7 separate regions of the Homo sapiens genome follow, and regions 2, 3, 4, 5, 6 and 7 are each linked to region 1. Evidence: fine-mapped expression QTL. A gene starts in region 1. Each other region holds a variant in brackets. All regions are shown on one strand. Distances are between the middles of the regions. Region 1 holds the start of RAB11FIP4 (RAB11 family interacting protein 4). Region 2 overlaps RAB11FIP4 (RAB11 family interacting protein 4). Region 3 overlaps RAB11FIP4 (RAB11 family interacting protein 4). Region 4 overlaps RAB11FIP4 (RAB11 family interacting protein 4). Region 5 overlaps RAB11FIP4 (RAB11 family interacting protein 4). Region 6 overlaps RAB11FIP4 (RAB11 family interacting protein 4). Region 7 overlaps RAB11FIP4 (RAB11 family interacting protein 4).

The links. PIP is the estimated chance that this variant, and not a neighbour inherited with it, causes the effect.
Region 2: its variant is fine-mapped to the expression of RAB11FIP4 in whole blood (TOPMed, PIP above 0.99).
Region 3: its variant is fine-mapped to the expression of RAB11FIP4 in whole blood (TOPMed, PIP above 0.99).
Region 4: its variant is fine-mapped to the expression of RAB11FIP4 in whole blood (TOPMed, PIP above 0.99). The same link has a PIP of 0.9 or more in T cells, blood mononuclear cells and monocytes.
Region 5: its variant is fine-mapped to the expression of RAB11FIP4 in whole blood (TOPMed, PIP above 0.99).
Region 6: its variant is fine-mapped to the expression of RAB11FIP4 in whole blood (TOPMed, PIP above 0.99).
Region 7: its variant is fine-mapped to the expression of RAB11FIP4 in whole blood (INTERVAL, PIP above 0.99). The same link has a PIP of 0.9 or more in CD4 T cells, lung, monocytes and neutrophils.

The regions. Positions count from the first base shown.
Region 1 is chr17:31,389,466-31,393,529 of GRCh38, reverse strand. It overlaps RAB11FIP4 (RAB11 family interacting protein 4), which reads right to left and starts at 1,855. Exons shown (of 15, transcript NM_032932.6): 1 at 1,519-1,855. The coding sequence starts at 1,677. RefSeq lists an enhancer at 2,051-2,640.
Region 2 is chr17:31,448,049-31,452,112 of GRCh38, reverse strand. All of the region lies in intron 3 of RAB11FIP4 (RAB11 family interacting protein 4), which reads right to left. Among named protein-coding and RNA genes, the nearest start is that of RAB11FIP4, 58 kb to the right of the region's middle. The variant C/T (reference allele first, on the strand shown) is at 2,072.
Region 3 is chr17:31,510,660-31,514,723 of GRCh38, reverse strand. All of the region lies in intron 3 of RAB11FIP4 (RAB11 family interacting protein 4), which reads right to left. Among named protein-coding and RNA genes, the nearest start is that of MIR4724, 22 kb to the left of the region's middle. The variant C/T (reference allele first, on the strand shown) is at 1,785.
Region 4 is chr17:31,481,978-31,486,041 of GRCh38, reverse strand. All of the region lies in intron 3 of RAB11FIP4 (RAB11 family interacting protein 4), which reads right to left. Among named protein-coding and RNA genes, the nearest start is that of MIR4724, 51 kb to the left of the region's middle. The variant A/C (reference allele first, on the strand shown) is at 2,439.
Region 5 is chr17:31,523,783-31,527,846 of GRCh38, reverse strand. RAB11FIP4 (RAB11 family interacting protein 4) reads right to left here. Exons shown (of 15, transcript NM_032932.6): 9 at 3,851-3,954; 10 at 2,617-2,757; 11 at 1-5. Among named protein-coding and RNA genes, the nearest start is that of MIR4724, 9.1 kb to the left of the region's middle. RefSeq lists enhancers at 1,607-2,221, 2,162-2,456, 2,837-3,451. The variant G/A (reference allele first, on the strand shown) is at 2,025.
Region 6 is chr17:31,417,418-31,421,481 of GRCh38, reverse strand. All of the region lies in intron 1 of RAB11FIP4 (RAB11 family interacting protein 4), which reads right to left. Among named protein-coding and RNA genes, the nearest start is that of RAB11FIP4, 28 kb to the right of the region's middle. RefSeq lists an enhancer at 4,014-4,064. The variant A/G (reference allele first, on the strand shown) is at 1,682.
Region 7 is chr17:31,492,538-31,496,601 of GRCh38, reverse strand. All of the region lies in intron 3 of RAB11FIP4 (RAB11 family interacting protein 4), which reads right to left. Among named protein-coding and RNA genes, the nearest start is that of MIR4724, 40 kb to the left of the region's middle. The variant G/C (reference allele first, on the strand shown) is at 2,008.

The DNA.
Region 1 (4,064 bases):
GCTTGCTGGGCACGTGGCTGAGGCCGGTGGCCCCTGCCAGAGGTTGTTGGGAGGCCCTTCCCACTACTGAGGCTCTGAGTTCGGGGACTCCAGGTTTCAGCCAGAGCTGGTAGCTTCTTTACCCGACCTGCAGTCTGTGTTCTGAGAGGAAGGAGCGCGACTATCCCCATGCCAGGAGTCTGCTCAGCCTGCCCCAGATGGGAGCCACTGGAAAAACGGAAGGGCTTGGCTGGCCTTTGGGGAAGAAGGGTCATGGTGGCAGCAGGCAGTGTCCCTCAGCAAAGCCCCGCAGAGGGCAGTCTGGGCTCTCACAGGCACTGCAGTGGTCTTTCCTGTGGTGGGTACCTGAGTTCTCAAGCCCTGAAGCTGCCTCACTCTCTTCTGCCCACAGCTCTCAGCGACTCACAAGTCCCGGCCCATGCCCAGGTGCGGGTGGAGAGATGATTCTCAATCGCCTCCCACTCTCTGGTGACGCAGAGGCACGGGCCCAACCTGGCCATCACCCAGCTTCTCCCATGTTCTGAAATGCCTGGTCCGACCTGTTCTGGGAACACAATGCCAGCCAGTGCCCATTTGAGGCCCATGGCCCCAGGCCCCCCATGCAGGGCCTGAGGCCTTAGATGGCCTTGGAAACCCACTTCTCAGGGCTTTTGGCTCCAGGGGAAACCCCTGACCATTTCAGCCAGGTGGGTGTCTTGTCCTCCCCTTGAGACACAGTCCCCAGTCCCCATGCCGGTGGCACCAGAGGACACTGGTGTAGTGTGCGTTTAGTGATATGACTCCGTCCACCCTACTGGCGGCACCGACCCTCCGCTTCCAGCCCTGTTAACAATCTACGTAAGTCCTGCTTTCCCCAAATAGATGCGGCCCCGCCACATGAAAGCCCTCTGCTCAGCCACCACTCCCCGAGCCTGGCTTTGCCTGGCCTGCTGCAACCAACACAGCCAGCTGCCAGCCTGGCTGCCCAGCAGAGCCTGAATGAGAGGTCACCCGACACTGGCCCGGGAGTACACGGTGGCCCCAGCAGACACCTCCTTCCGTGTCTGGGCAGGGTGTGTGCAGCCGAGGAGCCAAGGCTGCAGAGCACCCCTACCGGTCCCTTTCACCCCCTGGCCCGGCCCAGCAGGACGTACACAGACCCTTGCATCTTGGTCTCCGCAGCGCCGGGTGGGGTGGGGAGCCTAGGGCCGGATTCTGGCAGCTCTCTCCCCCAGACAAGGGTGGATGTGCAGACCGCTCAGAAGGACCTGCATGGCCGAGGAAGGAAGGTGGGCGCAGAAGCCACCCTAGGCGTGACGCGTGACGCTCGGGGCACGGGCGCCGGGGGGCGGAAAGCGAGGGCCCGGCTGGGCCAGGGATACCCGGGGGGGGCCGAGGTCCTGGGCTCCGGCGGAGGGAGGGGATTGGGAGGGAGGCCACCGCCTCGGGCCACGCGGGTGACCCGGCGGGGGAGCTGGGGGAGGGGCGGCGGGGCTGGGCTGGGGTCCCCGGGCCGGGACTGGGGTCGGGCCAGCTTACCTCCTCGCCCTGGCCGAAGCGCAGTCCGAGCGCCGCGACGCGCTCCACGCGCAGGAAGCCGTCGGGGTCGCGGCCGCACACCTCGAACACCTCGCGCAGGCGGCGCACGGAGCGCAGCAGAGCCGCGGGGGCGCCCGACCAGCCCGCGCCGCCCGCCATCCGGGCCGGCCCGCAGCTCAGCCCGGACCCCTCGCCCGCCGCGCCCGCCGCCTGCCCGCCGCCGCCATCGCCGCGCGCCCTCCGGGGCCGCCCGTCTGGGTCTGCGCCGCGCAGCCTCCGCCCGGTGGCGGCCGCGGCCGATCCGTGTCAGCAGCGGCGCCGCAGCCCCAGCCGCTCCGGAGGGGAAGGGAGGGGAGGGGAGGGAAGGAGAAGAGTGGGGAGGGGAAGGAGGAGGGGCAATAGGGGGCGGGGAGGGGAGGGGCGGGGGCCGCGGCGAAAATGGGAGGGAGAGGGGGAGGCGGCGGGGGCGGCGGCGGCGGGGACGCTGCAGACAAAAGGAGCCCGCGTCCTCCCGAGTGGGGCGGCCCACGCGGGGCCGGCAGGCGCAGCGAGCTGCCAACGGCCGCGTCCTCCGCGACCTCAGTTTCCCTCCGCGTCCCCAGTTTCCCTCCGCGTCCCCGAGCCCACCCCTTCCTCTGGACACCCGGAGCCACCCAAAGGCCCTGCCCTGCCGGAGGATTCCGCGGGGTCGCGCCCCTTTCCGCTATCCGTGCCCGCTGCCGCGCCTGGCGTCTCCCGAGCGCTCAGGATGTCCTGGGGGCCTCCTGCATTGGCGCGTTCCGTGACTGCATTCATCCCGGAGGAAGCTGAGGCCCAGAGAGGTCGGACTCACTCTAGGCCACACAGCTGGCAAGAGGCAGGGCCGGGATTCGCTGCCATCTCTGGAGGGCTCTGGACTCCGTTCTTCACCTCCGCCCTGCGGTCTCCCGGCGCTCTCCTGCAAGACAGCACTTGTGGGGCCATCGGGCGGGGGAGGGCACAGAGAGGAGGAGCAGGCAACTGAACCCCAGCCTGGACCCGGGACCCTGCGACGGGGAGATGAGGAGAAAACCAGGATGAGGCCGGAGGGAGGAAAAGCGAGGCGCTTCCAGAGGCCTGCCTGTTCAGGGCCCAAGGCTGCTCCACGCCTGGAAGAGGCTTCCTCCCTTTCGCCGGGTTCCCACCATCACACCTCCCTGGCAGCCCGCATGCCCCAAGCTCAGAGAATCCAGGACAGAATCTCTGTCCCGCTGGCCGCAGGCTCTAGGTCAGGACCCTGGCCTCCTCCCATTAGTGCTCAGCGGAGCCTCCACCCCAGCTTGTGCTAACTTCCCAGCCCAGCCTCGGGGCCCTGCAGGACCCGGCCGGGCTCTTCTCTCCACCTTCTTGCTCGGCACATCAGGTCTTTGTGGCAACGACTGGCCCCAACCCAAAAAAAGGCCTTGGCTGAGTCTACTCCCACCTATGCTGTCATGCTCAGCACAGAGGTTTCCTCCTCCGGGAAGGCTTCTCTGATGGCACGCCATCTTATCTTCTATTCTGAGTTCTAAGCCCTTCTTCCAGGTGCCCAGTTAATTCTTAATTCTCTAGTGGGATGCCCATTTCCCCTACCATGCTGGGAAGCCCTCCAGGGCAAGATATGTCTTAATTACCTTCAAGTCCCTGATCTCCAGGCAAGAGTGGGCCCAGAGGAAGCCCCACCCAGAGGGGATGGGCCCGCCCATTATGTGAGGAGCCGGGAGCAACGTAGTGGCGCAGACAGGGAGTACGGGGTGAACTGCATGGCCTCCCCTAGCTGGGCCTCGGTTTGTACCTCTGTGGTCTTCCTGCTCAACCCTGAATATATCCTGCGCAGGGACTGCCATTTGCCTTCTGACAGTGGGCGGGGACCTCTTCTTTCCAGCCCCGGCTCCTGGGATGAACCTGGCTTTTAGCTACTCTCCTTTGACCCTTCAGTTCGTCTGAGAGCCACGAAAGGCAACACCTCTTGGGAAGAGAGACCTGTGGTTCTGAGGATTGAGGAGTCCGAAATGTGAGAAAGCGGGAAAGGGGAGGCCGTGGGAGTGGAGTAGGGGTATTCGGCTGAGTAGGAGCGTCTCTGCTAGCTGGATGCCGCTCAGCAGGATACTAGCATATTTTAGCCGGTTTCCTCGCCTGTACCGTGAGGATAATAGTACCTTCCTTTTAGGGCAACTGAAGATGAGAGCGAATCTAAGCAATGCTGCTTTCCCCCGACCTACCCTGCAAAATGGAGGTGGAAGTGGAGAATAAGGACAAGCAGCTGGCTGGGAGAGACTGGCTGCTGGAGATCCAGCCAGCCCCCTGGCAAGGAGGTAGGGAGTGGAAGCTGGGGGCTGCTGCCTGCCCCTGGGACCCCGATATTAGTTCGTCCAAGGTCAGCTCGTGCCATTTTCTCTCACCCAAGGGGCTCAGCACAGAAAGGAGATGGCCAGGAGCTGGGGCTGCCCCCTGGTGGGGGCTGCAGAAATGGCTCTCCGCGCTCAGCCTGGCATTGAATGCCCCCTAACTGGGGACAGGGGAGCTGGAAGACTCACCCACTTCAGCTG
Region 2 (4,064 bases), 59 kb before region 1:
TTCTAGTATTTGCTAGTACAGCAGGGAAATTATAGTTAATAATTTCTTGTATCTTTCAAAAAGCTAGAAGAATTGTAATGTTCCCAACACAAAGACAAAGGTTTGAGGTAATGGATATCCCAGTTACCCTGATTTGATCATTACACAACATATGCAGTTATCGAAATATCACATGTATCCCAAAAACATGTATCACTATTACACAGCCATTAAAAAAACATGCAGCTAACAGTGGTGCATACTCAAGGAAATAAGCAGGGTGCTCTGGCAGTGATGGGGGCAGGGTGGGGAGGGAGTTTCTTGAGAGGGTGGTGGGGGAAGGCTTCTCTGAGGAGGTGACATTTGTGCTGAAACCTGAAGGGCACAAGGGCAGCTGTGCAAAGATTTGGGGGACAAGGGTTCTAGGTGAAGGGGAAGCCAGGCAAAGGCCCTGTGCAGAACTCGCTTGGGCAGTTTGAGGAACAGAAAACAGGTCAGGGTGGCTGAACAGTGAGAGTCACCGGGAATCTGGGAGGGGCAAGGTCAAAGATTCAGGCAAAAGTGAAACCTTCGAGGCCACAGTGGGAAGTCAGGGTTTTGGATTTTGTCACTGGAGGCTCTTATGCAAGGGAGAGGAGGATGGGACTTACAATTTTTTTTTTTTTTTTTTTTTTTGAGATGGAGTCTCGCTCTGTTGCCCAGGCTGGAGTGTAGTGGCGCCATCTCGGCTCACTGCAACCTCCGCCTCCCGGGTTTAAGTGATTCTTCTGCCTCAGCCTCCTGAGTAGCTGGGATTACAGGCGCCTGCCACCATGGCCAGCTAATTTTTGTATTCTTAGTAGAGACGGGGTTTCACCATGTTGGCCAAGCTGGTCTCGAACTCCTGACCTCAGGTGATCCACCTGCCTCAGCCTCCAAAAGTGCTGGGATTATAGGTGTGAGCCACCATGCCCAGCCACTAGGAGTTACAAGTTTTAAAGAACACTCCGGTGTCATATGGACCACAAAAAACAAGAGAGAATGCAGGCCATCGGGGCACAGGTACAGGGTGCGGCTCTGCTGGGACTGGGGTGTAACCTCCAAGGTGGAGGGAAGTGGATGGCTCGGGACATAGTTTGGAGGTAAAACCATTAGGCTGTGATGATGGGTTGGATGTGGAAGGAGGAAAGAAATTAAGGATGACTTGATCCTTGGTCAGAGTGACCAGGTAGGGGAGGTGGTGCCATTTACTGAGATGGGGAGCCTGGGGAAACATTCTTGGGGCTGAGGGGACGGAGCTGGATCAGATCAAAGGGTGTAGCCTGGAACATGGTGGAAATGCAGAGGGTGCGCCACAGGTTTGACAGAAGAGACTGGAGCCGAAGGCAATGTCGGAGGGGAAAATACTATCTTGGGAGCCCTCAGGGTAATGGTGCTTTTAGAGTTCTGGGACCAACCAGCTCCCCTGGGGAGTGGGCAGGCAGGAAGCATAGGGGTGAGGACGAGGCCTGAGACCCAGCGCCATTTAAAGGGACCCAGGAGGAGGGCGGGCAAGGCTGAGGTGGACAGATCACTTGAGGCCAGGAGATCGAGACCAGCCTGGGCAACATGGTGAAACCCCATCTCTACCAAAAATATGCAAATTAGCCGGGTGTGATGGCGCCGTCCTATAATCCCAGCTACTTGGGAGGCTGAGGCAGGAGAATCGCTTGAACCCCGGAGGCGGAGGTTGCAGTGAGCTGAGATCACGCCACTGCACTCCAACCTGGGTGACAGAGGGAGACTCTGTCTCAATAATAATAATAATAATAATAATAATAATAATAATAATAAAGCCGGTGGCGGGGGGGTGGTGTGCGGGGAGAAAAGCAGCCTGAGAGGTAGGAGGAAGGCTTGAGCTAAAAGGACGATCTGAGAAGGGAGAGGTTGGCTGTGCCAGGCCCTGCCCAGGGTTCCAGTAAAATGTGAATGGAGCAGAGGACACTAGAGGCTGAGAATGGCAGGGGAAGGAGAGTAGGGAGACGTTTGTTAAAAGTACAGAGTTACAGTTCTAGAGGAGGGATAAGTTCCATTGTTCTACATCACTGTAAGATGACTATCATTAACAATAATA[C/T]AGAGTTTTCAGTAGCTAGGAGACTATCGAGTGTTCCCAAAATGAAGAAATGATAAATGCCGGAGATGGTGGATATGCTAATTACCCTGATCTATTCACCACACACCATCACTATGTAAAAATGTGACTAGAGAACTGATGCTTGGATTTGGCCAGTGAGAAGTTCCTGGTGGCCAGGCAAGGTGGCTCATGCCTGCCATACCAGCACTTTGGGGGTCTGAGATTGGAGGATTGCTTGAGGCCAGGAGTTTGAGGCTGCAGCAAACTAGGACTGCACTACTGCACTCCAGCCTGGGGAACAGAACAAGACCCCCATCTCTACAAAAAATAAAAATAGCTGGGGATGATGGCAGATGCCTGTGGTCCCAGCTACCTGGGAGACTGAGGTGGGAGGATTGCTTGAACCCAGGTGTTGGAGGCTGCAGTGAGTCAGGACTGCACCACTGCACTCCAGCCTGGGTGACAGAGTGAGACCCCTGTCTCAAAAAGAAGTCCCTGGTGACTGTGAGAAGTGTTTCAGCAGAACAGAGGGGCCAAGACATCATTGGGAGTGGCAACAGAGAGAAAGGGAGGCAAGAAAGGGAGTTGAGACCAGTCTTTGGAGGAAATAGACCAAAGGAAAGAAAGCCAGGATGTGTGGTCAAGCGGGTGCTTCCCTGCCCATGGGAAGGGCATTATTATGTCAGCTCCAGAAGCGAATGGAAAGGACCCAGCAGGGGCGTGGTGCGGGTGCTGTGGGTGAGGGGCTGTTTGTGAAGGCGAGTGCTTGAGTTGGCAGGAGGGGCTGGGATCCAGTGTTCAGGCGGTGTGCGGGTGAGGAGCTGGGATTGGAGGGCATGGCCTGTGTCAGAGCAGGGTCATGCCACTCACCATCCCAGCAGCAAGCTGAAAGTGTGGGTGCAGGTGGAGGCAGGCTGGTGACTTTGGGAATGGGAAGGGGAGGGAATTCTGTCCCCTGTGTCCTGAATGATTCCCCTGAGGGTTCTGAGTGGTACAGAGAATGCAGGCATAGGTACTACTGACTGGGGGACCTGTCTCCTCAGGAACCTTTAGAAACATTAATCCATTGCATTCTCACCACAACACTGAAAATCAGGCTGACGACTCTGATTTTAGATAGGCAGAAATGAAAAAGGCTCAGAGAGGTGAAGCGACTTGCCAAATGACACACAGAAAGTGGTCAAGCAGAACCCACACTCAGCCCGTTTGACTCAAACCTGAGCTCTTTCCAGGATTCTGAGCAACCTGGGTGAGAATTTGCAGTGTCTGGAGGATCTGGTCAGAAGGATTCTTACAGGTTCAGGGCAGCCCCAGACAAAGAGGGCTGGAATCAGGCCTCCTTGAGGCCAGCCTTGAGAGGAGGCAAAATTACATCATTCCTGGAGCCTGCCCATGGAGCTCATTCCAGGCCTCAGCCACGCGGGGTCAAATTTCCTCATTTCTCCCTCCCAGTGAAGACCTGTTTTGTTACTAAAATGAACACTGCATTTACTTTATTACAAGAAAACAGGGCTAGGAGAGGTTGCTCATGACTGTAATCCCAGTGCCTTGGGAGGCCCAGCTGGGAGACTTGCTTGAGGCCAGGAGTTTGAGACCATCCTGGGCAACATAGCTAGACCCGGTCTCTGCCAAAAAAAAAAAAAAAAAAATTAGCTGGATGTGGTGGTATGAGCCTGTGGTCCCAGCTACTGAGGAGGCTGAGGTGGGAGGATTGCTTGAGCCTGGGAGGTTGAGGCTGCAGTGACTGCACTCCAGCCTGAGTAACAGAGCAAGACTTTGTTTCTTAAAAAAAAGAAAAGGAAAACAAAATAGCAATAACAGTAATACCTTACATAAAGCGGCCCCACAGCAGAAGATGGACATGGGTCTACAGTAGAAGTGGGACTCGAAAGAGCAGCCTCTAAAGCAAAACAATTTAAAAAGTCTTTCCCGCAGGGCGCGGTGGCTTACACCTGTAATCCTAGCATTTTGGGAGGCCGAGACAGGTGGATCG
Region 3 (4,064 bases), 120 kb before region 1:
AATGCGCCTGGTCTGTTCTTTCACCTGGCCAGGAAGAACTGCAAACTTTTCACCTTCCTGGCCACACGGGTAGCGAGAGTTCCCCCTTGCTGGGAATGCCCGCCCTGTGGCTCATGTGAGAGCTCAGCAACTTGGCAATGGTGTTTCTTCTGGACTTCACCGCAGCCCGATGAGCTGAGCCTCTTTTCCCCTTTCTGTAGGTGAAGGGTCTTGCCTGGGGCCATGTGGGAGTTTACAGCCGGGTCCGGACATGATTCTGTTTCCCCAACACCCACCTTCCCCCTACAGCCACATCCTGGGGAGGCTATGGCCCACCAGCTCCCAGAGGCAGGCAGAGGGCCCAGTGCAGATCAGCGTCCTTGCTCCTCAGGTGTCTGACGTGGCCTCTGGCCACTGACACGAGGACACAGAGGCCGAGTGTGTGCCGGGCACTGCCCCACTAACACCTGGCTCATGACATGCAGGTGGAACCACCGGGCCCTCTCACCCAACATCTACAGCAGCGTCCTGATACTCCCAGCAGCTGGCCCAAGCCCCTGACCGGGTGGAGAGAGCAGCCTCAAATGGCTTGGCTCAGGCACAGGCAGGGCAGAAGCAGGGGCACCAGGTTCCCACCCTCCAAAGAAGACCACCACCTCCTCGGGCAGGCTTTCAGCCTTGGACTAAGCAGAGTCCACATCTGCCCAGCCCTTCAGCAAGCTCCTCGCCTGTCTCACACACCCCATCCCTCACAACAGCCCCGTGCGAGCTGCCTGGGGTAGACAGGGCAGAGATCTGGGATTCATCAGCTCCGTCTGACACCTGGGGAAGATGAGGCTCAGAGTGGGAGAGTGGCTGCCCTGGAACCTTGCAGTTCACAGAGGGCCTGCAGGGACCTGACACCCGGCTGACACACCAAGTCCTCACCTGCCTGGCCACACATGCGCACACACTCTCTCCAGCTTTTTCTCTTAAAAATGGCTATTCCCAACATTAATACTTTTTCATTCAACCCACAGTTGTTTGTCCAAGGCAATCGGAAATTTTAATTATAACTTTAAAACCATTTCTAGTAGTTTGCCCCCTAAATTCAAATATAATAAAGACAGTTTACTGCACGCCTTGGTTAGCCCAGGACAGTACTGGTTTATGCCTGTCCCAAGATCCCCTTGGTTTGGTATTTGCCATGGTCACCCTTGCTCCTCCCTGAGGGCCAAAGTCCCCAGCCCCAGCTCTTGTTTCCCCGGCCCTCTGGGGAAGGGTCTGGTGGAAGCCCTTGCTCCTTCTCCCGCCGGCCTGGAGGGGAGATGCTGGAAGGTGCCAGAACGCAGCCTCTTCTCTCTCCTTGAGCCACCATTCATGGGCTGGGAGAACTCGGAGTCAAGCATACTAGGACTCTTCTTGGCCAATTTCCCTTTTGTATGTTTTTTAGATAAAGTTGCAGAGGAAAAGGAAGAACTTGGCCATAATAAAAACATTGCCCTCATAAGGTTTCCAGATGGCCTGGGGGTCACAGACTTCTGGAGGCGGTGGGTTCCTCTCCGGCCAGGCTGCCTGCAGGTAAGAATCACGCGGAGCCCCCTGTTGAGCATACTTCCAAGTAGACTGGGGGTCATGGGAGAGGATACCATCACCCCACCTCACCGCACTATGCTCGTCAGGATGCCCAGAGAGCTGCCCGCTCACCCCAGCTGCACGGTCTACATCCTCACCACAGAGGCGCCCACCCAAGCCTGGCTCTGGAGGGCTGGCAGGAGTGGTGGGGCAGGGACAGGGCCTCCCCAGAGCTCATGTTTCTAGGTGGC[C/T]GGGGTCAGCAAGTAAGGTCTGTGCCCAGGGCAGCTTCCAAGACTGCCTCTCAGAGCCCCGGTTTCCTGCCCATTCCCGCCTGCTGTGTGAAAAAGGAGTCCACACACGGCCGTCCAGTCACCACCCAGGGACCCTACACATGTCCAGGCCTGGAGCTTGGCCTGGTGTTCCCAGGGTTTGCACAGAAAGGCTGTGTCTGCTCTTTTGGGGGCCTTTGGGGAAGGGACAGTGTGGTATCCTCAGGAGGCAGCACCGGGCATCGTCTCTGGCACAGTCTGACTTGCCAGGGCTCTGTCCCTCAAGACCCAGAGCCAGCCCTGAGCTCACAGCTCCCTGTACCCTGGGACACAGGGCCAGCCACCATAGGCCCACAGGCTTGGCTGGTACATGGCCACACCACCCCAGGCTTTCTTCCACCTGCCAGCGGACCCCGGGGTGAAGGGAGAGAGCGGATGCAGCAGCGTGTTCCTCCAGAAGCCCCAGGAGGCCCCTGGGGGTGGGCTTGGGTGAGGGCTCAGCTCTGGGGCCTAGCAGTCTGGGTTTCCGGCCCTGCTGGCCCAGCCACTTACAAGCCATGTGACCTTGGACAAGTGACCACCTTTGTGAGCACCTGGCTCCTCACCTACAGAATGGGGCCAGTCAACTCCACCTCAGTGGCAGCTCTAGGGGGCCACACGTGACAATTTACACCGGAGAGTCGGTCACGGTAGGAGCCGTAAATTCTGACCTGGCCTCACGAGGGGCTACAGGCAACAGAGGGTGAGCTATTCCTACAGCCATGGGTCCCCGGCTGGTCAGCCAGCAATGTCCTGGACAGACGAGCAGCCAGGAGGGACGCCCACCCTCCTCAGAGAAGCCAAGCTGAGGAATTACCTGAGGCCAGGGCATTCTGGAGAGAGCTGGAGAACAGGATCCAGCCAGCCACTCTGGCAGGGCAGGTCTGCATCCCCTGCACCCCTACCTCGCTGTCCCACTGTCCCACCCTGTCCCCAGCAGGGAGTGGGAACCTAGAGGCACACAGCCTGCCGTGGGGCCCTCTCCAGTCTTGAGAGCCGTGTTCGCCTGCCAGCAGGCCCCAAGTCACCCCTTCTTTTGTAGGAAGTTGGCAAGGGATGAATTCAGGGCTGCTGAAAAGGCCAAGTATCAATACACGTGGGGGCCGTCCCAGCCTCAGAGTGGCCAACAATGCCACACTGTCCACACTCTCAGAGCGGATGCAGCATCTGGTCCTCTCCCTCCCCACCTCCCCCATGGGGAGCCACCTCACAGGCACACGCCAGCACCCTGCGTTTCCCTGAGCTGACACACAGAGTACATGGACCCCAAGTGACCACATGTCCACCTTCCCTGTGAGAGCAAGGACCCTAAGTGGGTAGCTATGGGGATTTACATGTCAGAACCCCAGTGGTTAGCACTGTAGAGAGCACATGGCAGGTGGTGGAACCATACTGTACTGCAGTATGATGAGCTGGGAACAGCACAGCCACAGGACCCTGAGACCTGGGTGCCGACTCTGGTGTGGTCACTGCCTGACTGTCTGATGCTGGATCAGCTGTTTAATTTCTGGGCCTGATGTAAACACGGGGAGGGAACCACCTGCCTGGCAGGCTGCCACAGGGAACTAGGACAATGCCTTGTGTCATGAGGGCGCGGAACACACGGCAAAAGGAGGCGCGGGGTGGCGTTAAGGACAAGCTCTGGAGTAGACGGCCAGGCCAGAGCCCTGCTCCACCATTCACCATTCATGAGCTCTGCAGCTTCAGGGTTACTGAACTGCTCAGTGCCTTAGTTTCCCCATCTATAAAATGGAGTTAACTGTGATTAGGATTAAATGAGCTGCTACACATCCTAAGCACTTTATGGTCTTAGCACACACAGAAAGTGCTCAGAAAACAAAACAAAACAAAACAAAAACACAAAAACAACAACAAAAACAAAAAAACCCTTGGAATGCAGTGGCGCAATCACAGCTCACTGCAGCTTCAAACTCCCAGGACTCAAGTGATCCTCCCAGCTCAGCCTCCCAAGCAGCTAGGACTACAGGTACACACCACCACACCCCAAAACTGAACTACTATTGTCGTCATTGTGTTGAAGGAAAACAATCCAGGGTACCTCCTGGCCTCCTGGCTCCCATCCAGCCCCTGGGACCTCTCCCTCTACCCACCGTGGCTCACTGGGCTGCAGCTCGGCTGGGTTTTTTTGGCTGCAGGAAGCCAGACCTGCAGGTTCCAGAGCCTGCCCTCCAAACATCAGTGCCTCTTTCTCCCCACCAGGGT
Region 4 (4,064 bases), 93 kb before region 1:
GGCTGGTCTTGAACTCCTAACCTCATGATCTGCCCGCCTTGGCCTCCCAAAGTGCTAGGATTACAGGCGTGAGCCACTGCGCCTGGCTGACCCTGTCTCTATTTAAAAAAAAAATAAGAGTACCTATGTGGTGTATCATACCACTGGCTTTGAAATCAAACAGACTTGGGTTTGAATTGAGTCTTATTTCCCAGATGTCTTGGGACAAGTTCTGTTACTTCTCTAAGACTCAATGTCTTCATCTGTAAGATGGGAATGGTACCTCACAGGATGTTGTACACCCTAGCACAGTGACTACACTTAATTTTAGGCACTCCTCAAAGGTGTGGTATGCGATTGAGCCCATGCACCCTGGGCCCACTCTATCTGCCTTCCCATCTCCACCCTGAGACCTTAAGCTCAGCAGTGTCCCAAAAGGTTTTAGGATGTGGCTGAGTCCAGGGGTTCTATCTTGGTTTCCCTTCTTCCCTTCCAAGTCCGATGTTGCCCCTAAGGATTATTAGGCTCAAAGCAGGTCACATGACAGGATCGTCCAGAACCAAGAAAGAAAAGCAGAAACCAAGGGTGATCATCCCTTCTCTGGTCGTGACTCTCTCCCAGAGAAGGTCAATGGAGAAAGTCAGGCCTGTCAAGCCCCCTCCCTGTCCCCACCATGGGCAGCCTGAGCGACATTTCTCAAGAGCTCTATGGAACGGGTGGTATCAGTAGGTCCTTCTTTATTTTTCTCAAAGGTAGTGGAGTGGGGAATGTCTGCAGGTACTTGTCCTTAAAAGCAGAGTGACAGAGAAAGGCCACAGATGCATTGAACACTCCTGGGTTTGAAGCCTGCCCGGTTCCACTTATCAAGGGAAGTCAATGTTTTGGAGCCTCAGTCTCTACCTCTAGAAAATGGAAATAAGACATTTCCTCTTGCAGTTGTGAAGTTTCAATGAAATGATAAAGTGTCTAGTGCAATGCCTAAGATGCTGCAGGTGCTCAATAAATGGCAGTTCCTAGTCACTACCAGCAGCATGAGTGAGCTGCAGTCTGACGCACTGGTTCTGTGCATGGGTGCCGGGGCCAAGGGCCATATCTTGGCTTTACCACCTTGTTGCTAAATGAACGTAGGCAAGTTTAAGTCCCAGTGTCTCAATTTCCTCATCTTTAAATTGGAGATAATAATAGTATGTATTTTAGAACTATTGTGAGGATCAAAATAATCAGGACCAGTAAAATACATAGAACAGAGCCTGGCACAGAGCAGGTAACCAATAAACAGTAGCTATTACTAATGATCATTATGGCAAGAGGCTGAGGGGAACAGAGGTGAGGATTAGAGGCAGCCTGAGGGAAAATTTAGGACCCTGACTTTTGAGGGAAGGGCTAACACTTTCCAGCAGGGTTCAGAGAAGCAATGATAGTCCAGTGGGGGGTGGGGTGGGGATGGTGACTGTATCTGATGGGTGAGATTAGACACAGGATGAATATGGGATCTGAGGGCTCTAACACAGGCTAGGATTCAGTGTCCTTGGTTCAAACGGGGGCTAAGAGTGAGTTAATAGGAAATATAATCCTGCCTTCTGAGCATAGCACCACCTATGAGGATGTGGGGAAGGAAGGTCTTGAGTTAGGTACCCTGGTCTCTTAGCATTACCTGTGAGGTTCCTTTTTTTTTTTAAAGAGACAATGTCAGGCCCGGCGCAGTGGCTCACTCCTGTAATCCCAGCACTTTGGGAGGCCGAGGCGGGCAGATCACCTGAGGTCAGGAATTCGAGACCAGCCTGGCCAACGTGACGAAACCCTGTCTCTGCTAAAAATACAAAAATTAGCTGGGTGTAGTGGCGAGCGCTTGTAATCCCAGACACTCTGGAGGCTGAGGCAGGAGAATCACTTGAACCTGAGAGGTGGAGGTTGCAGTGAGCCAAGATTGTGCCACTGCACTCCAGCCTAGGTGACAGAGGAAGACTGTCTCAAAAAAAAAAAAAAAAAAAGATAAGATCTTGCTCTGTTGCCTAGGCTGAAGTGCCGTGGCACAATCATAGCTCACTGTAGCCTCAAACTCCTGGGCTCAAGCAATCCCCCCACCTCAGCTTCCCAAAATGCTGGGATTACAGGCATGAGCCACCATGCCTGGCCTCTCTGTGTCTATTTTCTTTCGCTGCCACCATGCAAGAGTTAGCTCAACATTGGATGGTGTAAAGAAGCAACATTCTGCACATGTTTGGGGCCATGTGGAACGACTGGCTAAATATATATATATATGGTTTCATGATCATTATTTTGAGAAAAGAACCCTTCTGAACATTACCTAATGTTAACATTAGCCAAGCAACTGATGCCAACCAATATTAGCCAAGTGAACAAACAACAGCTGACATAAATAGTATTGGAGCTAAAACAAAAAGTCTGGCAAGTTGTTCTCAAACTGAGTTTGTTGGAACCCTCAGGGTTCTGTGGAG[A/C]CTTCGCAAAAGGGAAGATGTGCTCCAGGGGAACCACAAAAATAGCTCCACTTCTGTCTGCTGTACATGCTGTCTTCTGTATGAAACTTCATGTGAATAAAGGGTTCTATGGCTTTAAAAATATTTAAAATCACTGGTATAGTATAACCATTTCCCAGACAGGGGAATGAGCCCCAGAGGTGGGAAATGGCATCTCCCCTCACAAGTAGCACACTCAGTTAGTGGTGGAGCCAGGAGTAGAGCCAGGTTGCATTACTCTCAGTCTAGTGCTCTCCAAGGTGGACACCAGTCATTAATCAGGACTGTGAGCATCAGTCAAACCTGGTCCATCTTAGCAGGGCTTGATTCTGTCAACGCACACACAGAGGACATTCTTTCTTTACTTTTTTTTTTTTTTTTTTTTTTTTTTTTGAGATGCAGTCTCACTCTGTCACCCGGGCTGGAATGCAATGGCATGATCTCGGCTCACTGCAAACTCCGCCTCCAGGGTTCAAGCGATTCTCCTGCCTCAGCCTCCTGAGTAGCTGGGACTATAGGCGCATGACACCACGCCTGGCTAATTTTTGTATTTTTAGTAGAGACGGGGTTTCACCATGTTGGTCAGGATAGCCTCGAACTCCTGATCCCGTGATCCGCCCGCCTCGGCCTCCCAAAGTGCTGGGATTATGGGTGTGAGCCACTGCCCCCGGCCAGAGGACATTATTTCTGCCCAGCTGGGGCTCTATGTGTGGAAAAGCCCCCCTGGCAGCTGGCTAGGACTTTACCACAAGTACTTGTCCTCTCTCACCTCTCTCTCAGAGGTCCATTGACTCCACGCTCAGGAAGTTCAGCTACAACTCTTAAATCTCAGCTTTCATCCCAGGTGGTAAATTCAGTATTTGATGACTTAAGCAGTGGCTTAGGGAAGGGACTACCAAGCAAATAGGCAGGACTCTGAGACTGCAGAGGCCTCTTGACCCCAAAGGAAAGTCATTCCTAATTTTTTTTCTTTTCTTTTTTTTTTCTTTTTTTTTCTTTTAGAGTCTCCCTCTGTCGCCCAAGCTGGAGTGCAGTGGTGCGATCTTTGCTCACTGCAACCTCTGTCTCCTGGGTTCAGGTGATTCTTGTGCCTCCGCCTCCTGAGTAACTGAGATTACAGGCATATGCCACCACACTTAGCTAACTTTTTGTATTTTTAGTAGAGATGGGGTTTTGCTATGTTGGCCAGGCTAGTCTTGAACTGGCCTCAAGTGATCTGCCTGCCTCGGCCTCCCAAAGTGCTGGGATTACAGGCGTGAGCCACCGCACCTGGCCCCCAATTTTTTATTTAGAAAAAAAATGGGAATGACTCTTGGATCCAAAAGCCCTCTCTCGCCAGTGGGGATGTGTCTAGGGGTCTGCACTAAGCTGGCATCTTCTCTGACCACTCCTTCCTCTGCCTCTTCCCACCAAACCCAGTGAAGATGCAGGAGGCCTGGGTTCTGGGCTCTCCCTAACTTTTTGGGCCTCAGACTCCTCCCCTGGAAGAGCTTTTAGCTGGACAGCACATCTTTAGGTCTCTTCCAATTCTGCAACTCTGTGCCAGCCCAGGAGAGGATCTTGGACTGTGGAAACAAGGTGTTTCCCTTGGCAAACACTCCGGTGTTG
Region 5 (4,064 bases), 130 kb before region 1:
GCACCCTGGCGAAAGGAGAAAGACAAATCTCAGAAACCTGGAATGTAGACTATCTGATAAGCGCCTGCCAGTCTGCAGTGATTCTCTGCTTCCTCCCAGAGGAAAGATACCAGAAACCAACTGAGAGAAAGAATATGATTATTATGTCAAAGACAATTTAGCCGTGAGCTTCCTATCAGCCAAAGCAAAATAGTAAGGACTATTTGTAAGCAAAATAGTAAATTATCATTCTTATTTTCTTTCTTTTTTTTTTGAGACAGAGTCCTGCTCTGTTGCCCAGGCTGGAGTGAGGTGGCACAATCTCAGCTCTGCAACCTCTAACTCCTTCAGCAATTCTCGTGCCTCAGCCTCCTGAATAGCTGGGATTAGAGGCATGCACCACCACGCCTAGCTAATTTGTGTATTTTTAGTAGAGACGGGTTTTGCCATGTTGGCCAGGCTGGTCTCAAAAACTCCTGGCCTCATGTGATCCGCCCACCTTGGCCTCCCAAAGTGTTGGGATTACAAGAGTGAGCCACCACACGTGGCCTTTATTTTTCCAATAAGTGGAAACATTCATTAGAGAGTAGGAACGCAGATTCTTCTTGTATGCATCCTTCAGATCCTCAGACAACACGGGGATGTCTTTCTGCTAGATGGAGAAACAGTCTTCTTGTGGCTTCTGTGACTGGGCCCTCCTGTTAGACTCTGTAACTTGAAGGCAATGATCATATTGGCTTTTCATTCTCCGCCAACAGCATCTCATCCAGGGCTCTTCTCTGAGCGCTCACTGCACCTCCCTCTGATGACCACAGGCATGGGCTCTGACAGTAATAATCCTCTGTGTTAGCGTTCACACAGGAATTCCACAAAGGGAATCCTAAAGGGATTCCACAAGAAGACAGAGCCTGGGTGTTCAGGTCAGTTTTTTGTTTGTTTGTCTGTTTTGAGACGGAGTCTCAGTGGCGTGACCTCAGCTCACTGCAACCTCTGCCTCCCGGGTTCAAGCGATTCTCCTGCCTCAGCCTCCCGAGCAGCTGGGACTACAGGCGCGCACCACCACGCCTGGCTAATTTTTGTATTTTTAGTAGAGATGGGGTTTCACCATGTTGGCCAGGATGGTCTCCATCTCCTGACCTCGTGATCCACCTGCCTCGGCCTCCGAAAGTGCTGGGATTATAGGCGTGAGCCACTGTGCCCGGCCTCAGGTCAGTTTTAAATGGTCTGAGAATAGGTGCAGGTGAGTTGGGCCGTCGGTGGCAGCAGAACTGAACAGGGTCACTTCTGGCAGTGACTCCTGCAGAGCATCCCGTTCTCAACCCACCACCTCCCCATCATGTCCTCTTTCCTGGAAGGATGGCTTCTGGGCCTCCACTGCCCTCTGGGCTCCAGAGAGGAATTCAGCCCCACCACCAGCAGGTGGCCCCAAGCGGGTGGAAGTGGTAGGGAACCAAGCATACGGCAGGACTCTGGGAACACCACTCGGATATTTTACACGAATGGCGCCCCCGGAGCTGTGTGACGGGCACACGTTAGGAGACAGTTCCCGAGGGCTGGCTTTCTGCACTTTGTCCTGTGGCCCAGGTTCACACTGTCTTTTACCACCTCCCGTGTCCCAGCCACCTCTCTTGGGCCAGCTGCCGAGGCGGGCTGAGCGAGAGCAGTCACCCTTAACTAGGCACCAGCCTCCAGAAACAGATGCAAAACAGCAGCTTCTAGAATAGAGTCAAAATGTAAAATGAACCCCTGGTGGGTAACTTAGCAAAGCAGGTCTCAGACACCGGGGAGTTGGGAAGTCTCCTCACCAAACTGCACAGGGGCAGGGACACGGGGGCAGGGAGGTACCTGCCTGAGAGCCCAACTCCCAGTCATTTGCTCAGCAGCCCACCAGCCGCCAGGTGGGGCTCGGCAACTCTGGGAAGCCTCAGCATGGAGACTGGGGCCTCAGGGGGCCTGAGGAGTGCCAGGGCAGCTGTCCTCTCTGCCAGAAGCCCAGGCGGCCTCCTCGGCCTCGGTCAAGGGCCGCAAAGGGGCTTCATCACAGA[G/A]GCATCATCATAGCCCTCACCCGTGGGCAGGGTCTGGACTTACATCGGCTCACCCACCCACACAGCCGCTCTGTGGGGCACACAGGGAGGTGACCCAGTACGTCCAAGGCCATGGAGCTAATGGGAGACCAACTCAGATCCCTGGCCCGGGGCTGCTCCTTGTCCCGCCTGCGTCACGTTCCAATGACGAAGCCACAGGTACACGCAAGGCACAGGAGCCGGGTTTTCCATTTACCTTGGCCCTGGGGCTCTGGCTCAGTCCACCAGGGGTCAGGGGAGAACCTGACAGCAGGGGGCGCTCCAGGCCTGGATGTGAGACCCAGCCCAGGCCCTTTTCTCTGACAGACATTTGTGTGGTTTGCATTACCAAATGTGAGCCACGCTCCTGGGAACATTCCTTAGCGAACTTCCTGAAGAGCATGCCTCTGTGTTTCTCGTGGTATTAAAGTGGAACTGTTACTACTGGAAAGTCTCAAGAGGCTGCCCCTCAGCCTCACATTCCCATCTATAAAATGGGGATAGCGCCTATCCCACAGGGCTGCCCCAGGACAGGGGGTCCCTCTGAGGGAGGGGGCTCGGTGGAGGGGCCCACCTGGCATTGAGCAGCTCCACCTCGGTAGCCTTCTCCCTCTCCAGCTTGCCGTAGGCCTCGCGGTGGCGCCGCGCCTCCTCCTCCAGAGCCTGCTCGGCCGTGGTCTCCTGATCCTTCACCATCTCCTCCAGCTCATGCACCCTGAGGACAGCGCAATGGGCAAGCTCTTGGGGCCTGCACCATTTCACCCCAACCCAGGCTGTGGCACGGGGGACCCTGGGCCCCGAGACCCTGAGTCACTGGCATGTCCACTGAGGGCGTGTGGGCCAGTAGCTTTCAGAGAGATGAACGGGGACACCGCACATATAGAGGGGGTGTCGGTCACACATGCCATGGAGGGGCAGGCCTGGCAGTCAGAAGGTGGGGCGCTCAGGGCAGCACAGGGAGGGACCGCCCCCACCAGTCCCTGCAGCCACACCTGGCCGGAACCACCTCAGGCCTCACCTCTTCTTTTTGTGCTGTTCCTTCCCGGCCACCCCTCTGATTAATAATTCAGCTTATTGGGCACCTTGACTCCCAAAATAGGCACATCCTGGCTGGTGGCCTGAAGTCTGCCCCAGACCTGGGACAGGGCCAGGGGCACGTAGATGTGAGCACCCCAGTGACAGCCTGGTTGGTATTTCGGTCTGGGATACGTCTCACTGGCAACAGCCCCTCCACCAGGCTGACCTTCTGGGGTGTACAAAAGGGCCCATCTTTGGGCCCTGTGACAAGTTGGAGGACCGGACCCCTGGCCAGGGTATGTCCCCCAAGGGTCATGCCATCTGGTGAGGACAACTAAACCCTGAATCCACCACTGCAGACAGCATCAGGAACGGCAGGCTCAGGGGACCTCCATCAGCAGCAGTGCTGGACCCTTCCCACCGCCCAGCTCACACTGGCCTGTCCCCTGCAGAGCTTGTCCCTAGGAAGGGACGTCAGGCTCCTGTCACTGTATGAGTGAGACACAGTGGATCCCCACTCCCATCTTGGACCAGCCCTGTGGCTTCAGACCTCAGGGGGTAGAATCCATTGGGCCTAGAGCCAAGGTCAAGCTCCAACCTGTCTCCCTGTCCCTAAGGTCCTGTCCTGGGCACCACATGTGGGCAGGGCCATGTGACAAGAGGCTGATGCGTCACAGACCCTCAGAGCTGCAAAGGCATGAGGCTGCCTCCTCCTGGAGGTCTTAGCAAGATGGACCCCCCTTTGTTCCCCAGCGTCACGGCCGAGCCCCCAGCGCCGCTGCCTGCTTGACCTGTGCACCAGCTGTGTGTTCTCTTGCTTCAGCTTGCTCTTCAGGTCCCCATTGGTCAGGCTGTCATTCTCCAGCTCTGTCACCTTCTTTTCCAGGAAGCTTACCTGCAGCAGGGGGCCGGGGTGGGGTGGAGAAGACCTCTGAGGCCACAGAACCGAGAACCTCGACGCCATGAGGTTCATGAGCAGGACCTCCAAACCACTGTGTATCTGAG
Region 6 (4,064 bases), 28 kb before region 1:
TTTTGGAGGCTGAGGCAGGTGGATCACTTGAGGTCAGGAGTTCAAGACCAGCCTGGGCAACATGGTGAAACCCCATCTCTACTAACAATACAAAAATTAGCTGGGCATGGTGTCCTGTGCCTATAATCCCAGCTACTTGAGAGGCTGAAGCACGAGAATTACTTGAACCTGGGAGATGGAGATTTCGGTGAGCTGAGATCACACACTGCACTTCAGCCTGGGCAACAGAGCGAGACTGTCTCAAAAAAAAAGAAAAGAAAAGAAATTTTAAAACAAGCAAAAAAATCAAAAACAGAAAGGCATCTGAAAAATCCTCAAATACTTGGGAATTAGGCAGTATGTGTCTAAATAATTCATGAGTCAAAGATGAAGTATCTTTTTGTTTGTTTGTTTGTTTGAGATGGAGTTTTGCTCTTGTTGCCTAGGCTGGAGTGCAATGGCGTGATCTCGGCTCACTGCAACCTCTGCCTCCCGGGTTCAAGCAATTCTCCTGCCTCAACCTCCCGAGTAGCTGGGATTACAGGCATGCACCACCATGCCTGGCTAATTTTGTATTTTTTAGTAGAGATGGGGTTTCTTCATATGGGTCAGGCTGGGCTTGAACTCTCGACCTCAGGTGATCCACCCCCTTCGGCCTCCCAAAGTGCTGAGATTACAGGCATGAGCCACCGCACCCAGCCCCAAAGTCTCAAGAGAAAATAAAAATAATTTAAACTAAATGAAAATGAAAATACAATACCATAAAATTCAAGCCCAAAGCAAAAGGGAGGAAAGAAATAATAAAGATAAGAGCAGAAATTAATAAAATTAAAAATGAGACTGGTAGAGAAAAATCAACAAAACCCAAATCTGGTTTTTTTTTTGAAAAGATTAACAAAACTGATGCATCTCTAACCAGAATGACAGAGAGAAAGAGAGAGAGAATACAAATCACCAATATAAAAAATGAGGCTGAGCACAGTGGCTCACACCTGTCATCCCAGCACTTTGGGAGGCCAAGGTGGGAGGATCGCTTGAGACCAGGCATTCAAGATCAGCCTGGGCAACATAGCAAGACCCCATCTCTACAAAAGATTAAAAAAATTAGCCAAGCATGGTGGCACATGCCTCTGGTCCCAGCTACCGGGGTTGGGTGAGGTGGGAGGATCGCTTGAGCCAGGGAGGTCAAGGCTGCAGTGAGCCTTGATTACACCACTGCACTCTAGCCTGGGTGACAGAGTGTGACCTTGTCTCGAAAAAAAAGAAAACAGAGATATCATTACAGTCTTACATCCTTTAAAAGGCTAATAAGGGAACACTAGAAACACTTCTACACACATAATTTCTACAACTTAGATGAGCTAATGGACCAATTCTTTGAAAAACACAAACTACCAAAACTCATGCAAGAAGAAATAGATAATCTGAACAGTCCTTGAGTGATTAAAGAAATTAATTTCCCAATTTATATCCTTCCAAAAAGGAAAACCTCAGGACCAGATAATTTCACTAAGTATTTAAGGAAAATATACATAAATTCTACACTACCTCTTCCAGAGAATAGAAGAGCCACTTCCCAACTCGTTTTATGGGGCCAGCAATAATACCCTGTTACCCAAACCAAACAAAAGCAATATAAGAAAACTACAAACCTGCTGGGCGCAGTGGCTCATGCCTGTAATCCCAGCACTTTGGGAGGCTG[A/G]GGTGGGCGGATCATGAGATCAGGAGATCGAGACCATCCTGGCTAACACAGTGAAACCCCGTCTCTACTAAAAATACAAAAAATTAGCCGGGCATGGTGGTGGGCGCCTGTAGTCCCAGCTACTCGGGAGGCTGAGGCAGGAGAATGGCGTGAACCCGGGAGGCGGAGCTTGCAATGAGCCGAGATCGCCCCACTGCACTCTAGCCTGGGCGACAGAGTGAGACTCAGTCTCAAAAAAAAAAAAAAAGAAAAAAGAAAACTACAAACCAATATCCCTCATGAACACAGATGCAATGAGCCTCTGCAAAATATTAGCAAATCGAATCCAGGAGATATATATGAAAAATATAACAAGACAAGCAGCCGAATGGGGTTTATTCAGCAAAGCTGGCCCAACATTTGAAAACTAATGGATGTAATCTAAACATGACCAAAGAAGAAAAACCTATCAAAAGATGCAGAGAAATCAAGTGGCAAAATTTAACATCCATTCATGATACCAAAAAAAAAAAACAAAAAAACTCTCAACAAAGTAGAAATATAAGGGAACTTCCTTATCCTTCCTTATCTTAGAGAAATGAAAACTTACATTCACACACACCCACACAAAACTGCACAAAAATGTCCACAGCAGCATTACACATAATCACCCAAACCTAGAAACATCCCCAGTGTCTCTCAACAAGTGAATGGATAAGCAAGTGTTCCCTAACCAAAAAGAACAAATGATTATGCTACGGGAAAGAAACCACTCCCAAAGGTTACAAACTGTATGATTCCATTTACGTGCAAAAGGCAAAACCATAGTGACAAAGCCAGATCAGTGGGTGCCAAGAGCGAGGAGGAGGGACTGAAGACAAAGGAGCAGCCGGAGAGAATTTGGGGGATGAGCCGTTCTGTCCCTGATGGCAGTGGGAGTCACAGGAGTCTATGTAAATAGTGACACTTCTTCCCCCACCCCCAAAAAGCGAATTTTACTGTATGTAAAGTAAAAACAATTTTTTAAAATTTTTCTTTAAAAATCAAGGGAACTGGCTGGGCACGGTAGCTCACAGCTGTAACCCCAGCACTTTGGGAGTGGGTCAAGGCAGGAGGATCGCTTGAGCTCAGGAGTTCCAGACCAGCCTGGGCAACATGGCAAAACCCTGTCTCTGCAAAAAATGAACAAAATTAGCCAGGTGTGGTGGTGCACGCCTGTAGTCCCAGCTACTTCGGAGGCTGAGGCGGGAGAATCACCTGAGCCCGGGAAGTCAAGGCTGCAGTGAACTGTGATTGTGCCACTGCACTCCAGCCTGAGTGACACAGTGAGACCCTGTCTCAAAAAAAAAAAAAAAAAATCAAGGGAACTGCACATACAAAGTTGGATATCTGACTTTAAATTTTTATTTTTATTTATTTTATTTTATTTTTTTGAGACGAAGTCTCACTCTTGTCTCCCAGGCTGGAATGCAATGGTGCGATCTCGGCTCACTGCAACCTCCGCCTCCCGGGTTCAAGCGATTTTGCTGCCTCAGCCTCCTGAGTAGCTGGGATTACAGGTGCCTGCCACCACACCCAGCTAATTTTTGTATTTTTAGTAGAGACGAGGTTTCACCATGTTGGCCAGGCTGGTCTCGAACTCCTGACCTCAGGTGATCCGCCCGCCTTGTCCTCCCAAAGTGCTGGGATTACAGGCATGAGCCACTACGCCTAGCCTATTTTTATTTTTGTTATAGACAGGGTCTCACTGTCACCCAGGCTGGAGTGCAGTGGCATGATCATAGCTCACAGCAGCCTCGACCTCCCAGGTTGAAGGGATCCTCCCAACTCAGCCTCCCAAGTAGCTGGGAGTACAGGCATACACCACTACACCTGGCTAATTTTTTGTAGAGATGGGGTCTCATTATGTTGCCCAGGTTGGTCTTGAACTCCTGGCCTCAAGTGATCCTCCTGCCTTGACTTCCCAAAGTGTTGGGATTACAGGCATAGCCCCCATGCCCAGCCCCTGGCTTTTCTTGAAAAATCAGATCTGGCAATACAGGTCCCATATTCCCCCACAGCAACAATGAGCGACAGCTGAATTCAAGCACACTCTTTAGAAAGGGAATGTATTCTGCTCCCCAGCTGTCTATGGGAACCCCCAAATCTCAAGTAGTTCCCCACCGCAGCCCCACCTAGGCTGCATTCCTTCCTGGCCCCCATGGGCATCGGAGTGGCAATTCCTGCTACCCCAGGCACTAACCTGGGCTTGGCTGGGCACCTGACATCGTCTATATCCACAAAAGGGGTTTCAGGGCTTGGCTTGGAGTAGGGTGAAGTTGAAACTCCCCAGCATTTTTATGCTGTTTTAGCAGCCACAATAGAAGACAGATGGGAAAAGAGGGGAAAGGACAGTGCCTGTGGG
Region 7 (4,064 bases), 100 kb before region 1:
GAAAGAAAATTGCTAAAAGGAAACACATGTGAAAATGAAAACTCAGGCAAAGGGGGAGAAGGACGAGGGAAGAAGAGTAATGTCCAAGGATTATAAACTGAGTCAAGAAGCCCTTGGAACACCAGTTTCCCTCTGCTCCCTTGGGAAGGCCAGTGACCCACTCCCAGCCCTCATTTTCCCTCTTAACCCAGATGGAACGGGGCAGACCTTAGATGATACCCAGCAAGAGAAACAGGGAATGTTGCCTTGCACACAGCCATGACAACTGTGGAGCCACGATTCATATGTGGTGGGAGGAAAATCCCGAGGCTCAGAGAGGTCGCTCTACTTTGCCAAGGCCACACAGCTGGCGAGCCATAAAGCTGGAATCTAAGCCCAATCCAAGGTTGTCCCCTTGAACCACATCAGGGTCCCCTCATATAATCTGCCACCACTACAAGGTGGCTCCACCTGCATCCTTGGAGGAACTGGACAAATTATATAAGTTCCCCAGAGGTTACCTAGTTTCTATTTCATTAAATCTGAGACACCTCTGATTTTACAATGCACCGTTATTTCAAGTATGCCAAGAAAAAGGCGCTGTCAAATTATAATAATCCGCAAATGTGCGACACATTCCAATTTAAGATGTTAAATGGAAAAAAAGGAAAGGAAAAAAAGAATGTGCCTTAGAATCCCAGAAAATACCATGTAAGTGTGAGTAGGGAACAGGGATTCAGTCACAGTTCCGCAGACTGTGTGTGTGCAGTGAAGGGCAGTCAACAACTCCACACAAGCACATGAGCACACACCTGCTGCTATAAAATCCTTCTTTGCTAATAACTGATGCAATCGTGCAGATAATCATACAAAAATGTGTTGGCCAGACCTGCCTTGTCAACAAGAACCCTCATTTCACCAGGAGACCATCAATTCAAGGTTGCCTAACATCAGTCAGACGAGTCAAGCATGGTGGCTCATGCCTGTAATTCCAGCACTTTGGGAGGCCAAGGTGGAAGGATTGCTTGCGCCTAGAAGTTTGAGACCAGCATGGGTGACATAGTGAGACCTCATCTCTACCAAATGAATAAATAGCCGGGAGTGGTGGTGCACCCAGCTACTCAGGCAGCTGAGGTGGGAGGATCACTTGAGCCCAGGAGGTCGAGGCTACAGTGAGCCAAGATTGTATCGCTGCACTCTAGCCTGGGCAGAAATGCGAAACCCTGTCTCAAAAAAAAAAAAAAAAAAAAAAAAAATCAGTCAAGTGGAGGCTGTCCTGCCCACCTAACCAGCCAGGCTAGGCCAGGCTAGCCAGCTTCGCCTGAGTGGAGCTATAGACCTCTGGGCAGCCAAGCTGGATGACTCTGTGGTTAACTACCAAGGGCAGTCACCCAGTGTGGCTGGGCGGTGGCACAGCCTGCACCTTTTTGTCTGGCTTTTCTCCAAATCTCCTGGGGCTTGTGGCCAGCCAGAGCCTCAGCATTTTAATAAGGCAGATGCTGGGGGCTGGCAGTGGCAGATGGGCAGCACTGCTCCAAGCCAGCTTTTCCAGCTAGGCACAGGTGGATGGACAGGCAGGCCCTGGCTGGAGGTGAAGGGCAGGTGGGCCGAGGTGTGGAGGGCCATCCTCCCCTTGGCAGGCCAGCCACAGCCTGGCAGTGTGAGCAGCCTCTGGAAGGACAGGCTAGGTACAGTCTCCCTCACTGAACCTGGGGAGAAGTCTGTTACCTCGGAAGCTGCTTGACATCTCATTCACAGACTGCCACACAAATGCTAGTCACTTCACCCCAGACCCAGAATCTGTATCTGCAGAGCCCGAGCAAGGTTTGTTAAAAACACAGAAGCTGGCTGGGTGCAGAGGCTCATGCCTGTAATCCCAGCACTTTGGGGGGCCGCGGTGGGAGGATCACCTGAGGGCAGGAATTCGAGATCAGCCTGGGTAACATAGTAACACCTCATTTCTACTTTTTTTTTAAAAAAATTAAAATTAAAATTGAAAAAAAAGATTTAAAAACCCACAGAAGCTGA[G/C]GAAGTAGAGTTTTGCTTCTCTTGCAAAGGCCCTTGAGTAATGGAGTTTTTCCGCTGCCACCTTCCTGTTTGGGCCATGACACTCCCCGGCAAGACATTCTGTTAGGTGCGAAGGTTATTAGTCACAACAATCAAACCAGCTGAAGCCTGCAGGAACTAAGAATAACAGCTCACCCCAAAGCACAGTTTTAAGTGCTTTTCATACATTTACATATTTGAGCCTTACCACGAACCCTGTGAGGGAGGTACTAGCCTCATCCTCTTACCACGAACCCTGTGAGGGAGGTACTAGCCTCATCCTCGTTTTACAGGTGGGGAAGCTGAGGCACAGAGAAATTAAATAACTTGTCTAAGATTCCACCAATAGCAAGGGGCAGAGCCAGGATCTGAACCCAGAGACAGCCTGACTCTGAAGGCATTTTGGTACTAAACTGGCCTGCCTCTCTAACCATCTAACCGTCCACGAGTGTCAACTAAGTAAAGGCCAGAACCTAGACTGGGCATCTTAAATCACCATGGCTCATTTTATTTTCACCATCACCCTGCGAGGCAGGTGCTATTATCAACCCCATTCTACCTGTTGGGCACCCCAACCCTCAGCCACCCCAAAGCAGGGGGGTGGATGAACAGGATGCCCCATCTGAATGCTGCCTGACACGCAAACACACACGTGTGTGCACACACACATATACGATCTGGGGCCCTAAACTGGACAGACTAAACCCAAAGCTGCTGCCCAAATGTGGGAGTGACTCCCTGGGGTCCTTAGGACCCCACAGAACCATGCTGCTGCCTGCCCACAGGCAGAGGGAGTGAAGAGTGAGGCCAGGGAAAGTGAAATCAGAAGGGTGAGGTCGCCTGTCCAAAGTTCCACAACTAGCGAGCAACAGAGCCAGGATCTAGACCTAGAAGTTTTCTGGCGCCCATTTTTTCTCCTTAAGGAAACAGGCATTGGGTGACAAAGCGTGGGATGCAGGTGTCTGTGTCTTAGGTAGGCATTTCTTCCAGGAAAACGAGGGAGCAGGGGGCAGGGACTTGCTGCTATTCTCGCTCCTATTCTAGGAGGGAGACTTGAGTCTGGTGCAGAGGGTAGACACCCCTCAGCTCCCTTACCCCAAGTTCACCGGAGCAGCAGCAGCTATTTGAAATGTGGGTTCCCTTTCCATGGTATCAGGCTTGCACAGCGCAGGGGGGTGGGGGGTGACCACAGATGACTAAAGAGAGAGAGCCCGCCCACTCTCCCACACTCCAGTTCTGTTTAGGCCTTCCTCTTTCTGGTACCTCAAAAGAGAAAGGCTCCCATGAGCAGAGCCACAGATATTAATAACTTCTACAGAGCTTTGTTTTCATCTGAATTAATGTTTACATTGTTGGGAAAGAACCCACTTGTCTGGGAAGATGAAGCAGGTTAGATCAATTAAAAATGTGACCAACAGTTGGAAAACTTCCCATTTCTTAAGGTCAGTCAAGAAGTGGGTTTGGAAGTGCTGGCATGACTAGCACTGGCCTGCTGGGCGGTTCTGGGCTGGAGGTCACTCAGACCCCACAGCTCTGGGCCATCACAGCCACCCCTCTGACCTTCATACGACCCTTGTAGGCTGCACGTCCTTCTGGTTGCCTATGTTCTCCTCCCCGTCTCATCTCCTTTCCAGGTCATGCGAAAAAGTGAAGAAGTAACCACCAAGGTTGTCTGGGTGCTCAGGGGGGTTCTGAGAATCTGAGCTCTTGTCATCAATGCTCTTGAGGGGGGCTCAGCTCCTGAAGCACCAAGACGCTCGGGACCCCTCTGAGCAAGGCCAGCTGGGCGCCCCCAGCATCCACTCAGCCTTGAATGGGGTCCACAGAAGCTGGCCAATGACAAATTCCATTCAATTAACAGTATTATGATGAAGCTGCAAACACTTGGGGAAGGACTGCCATGTGTAGTCAGACACTTGGCATGAGATAATGAGAAAATAGCTCCAAATGAAAACAGATAAGGGTGCAGTCCAGGCTTCTGGGGGCACCTTCTCTGCAGCCTGCCACCCAGTGTGGGCTCCAGATCATGGTGCTTGGAA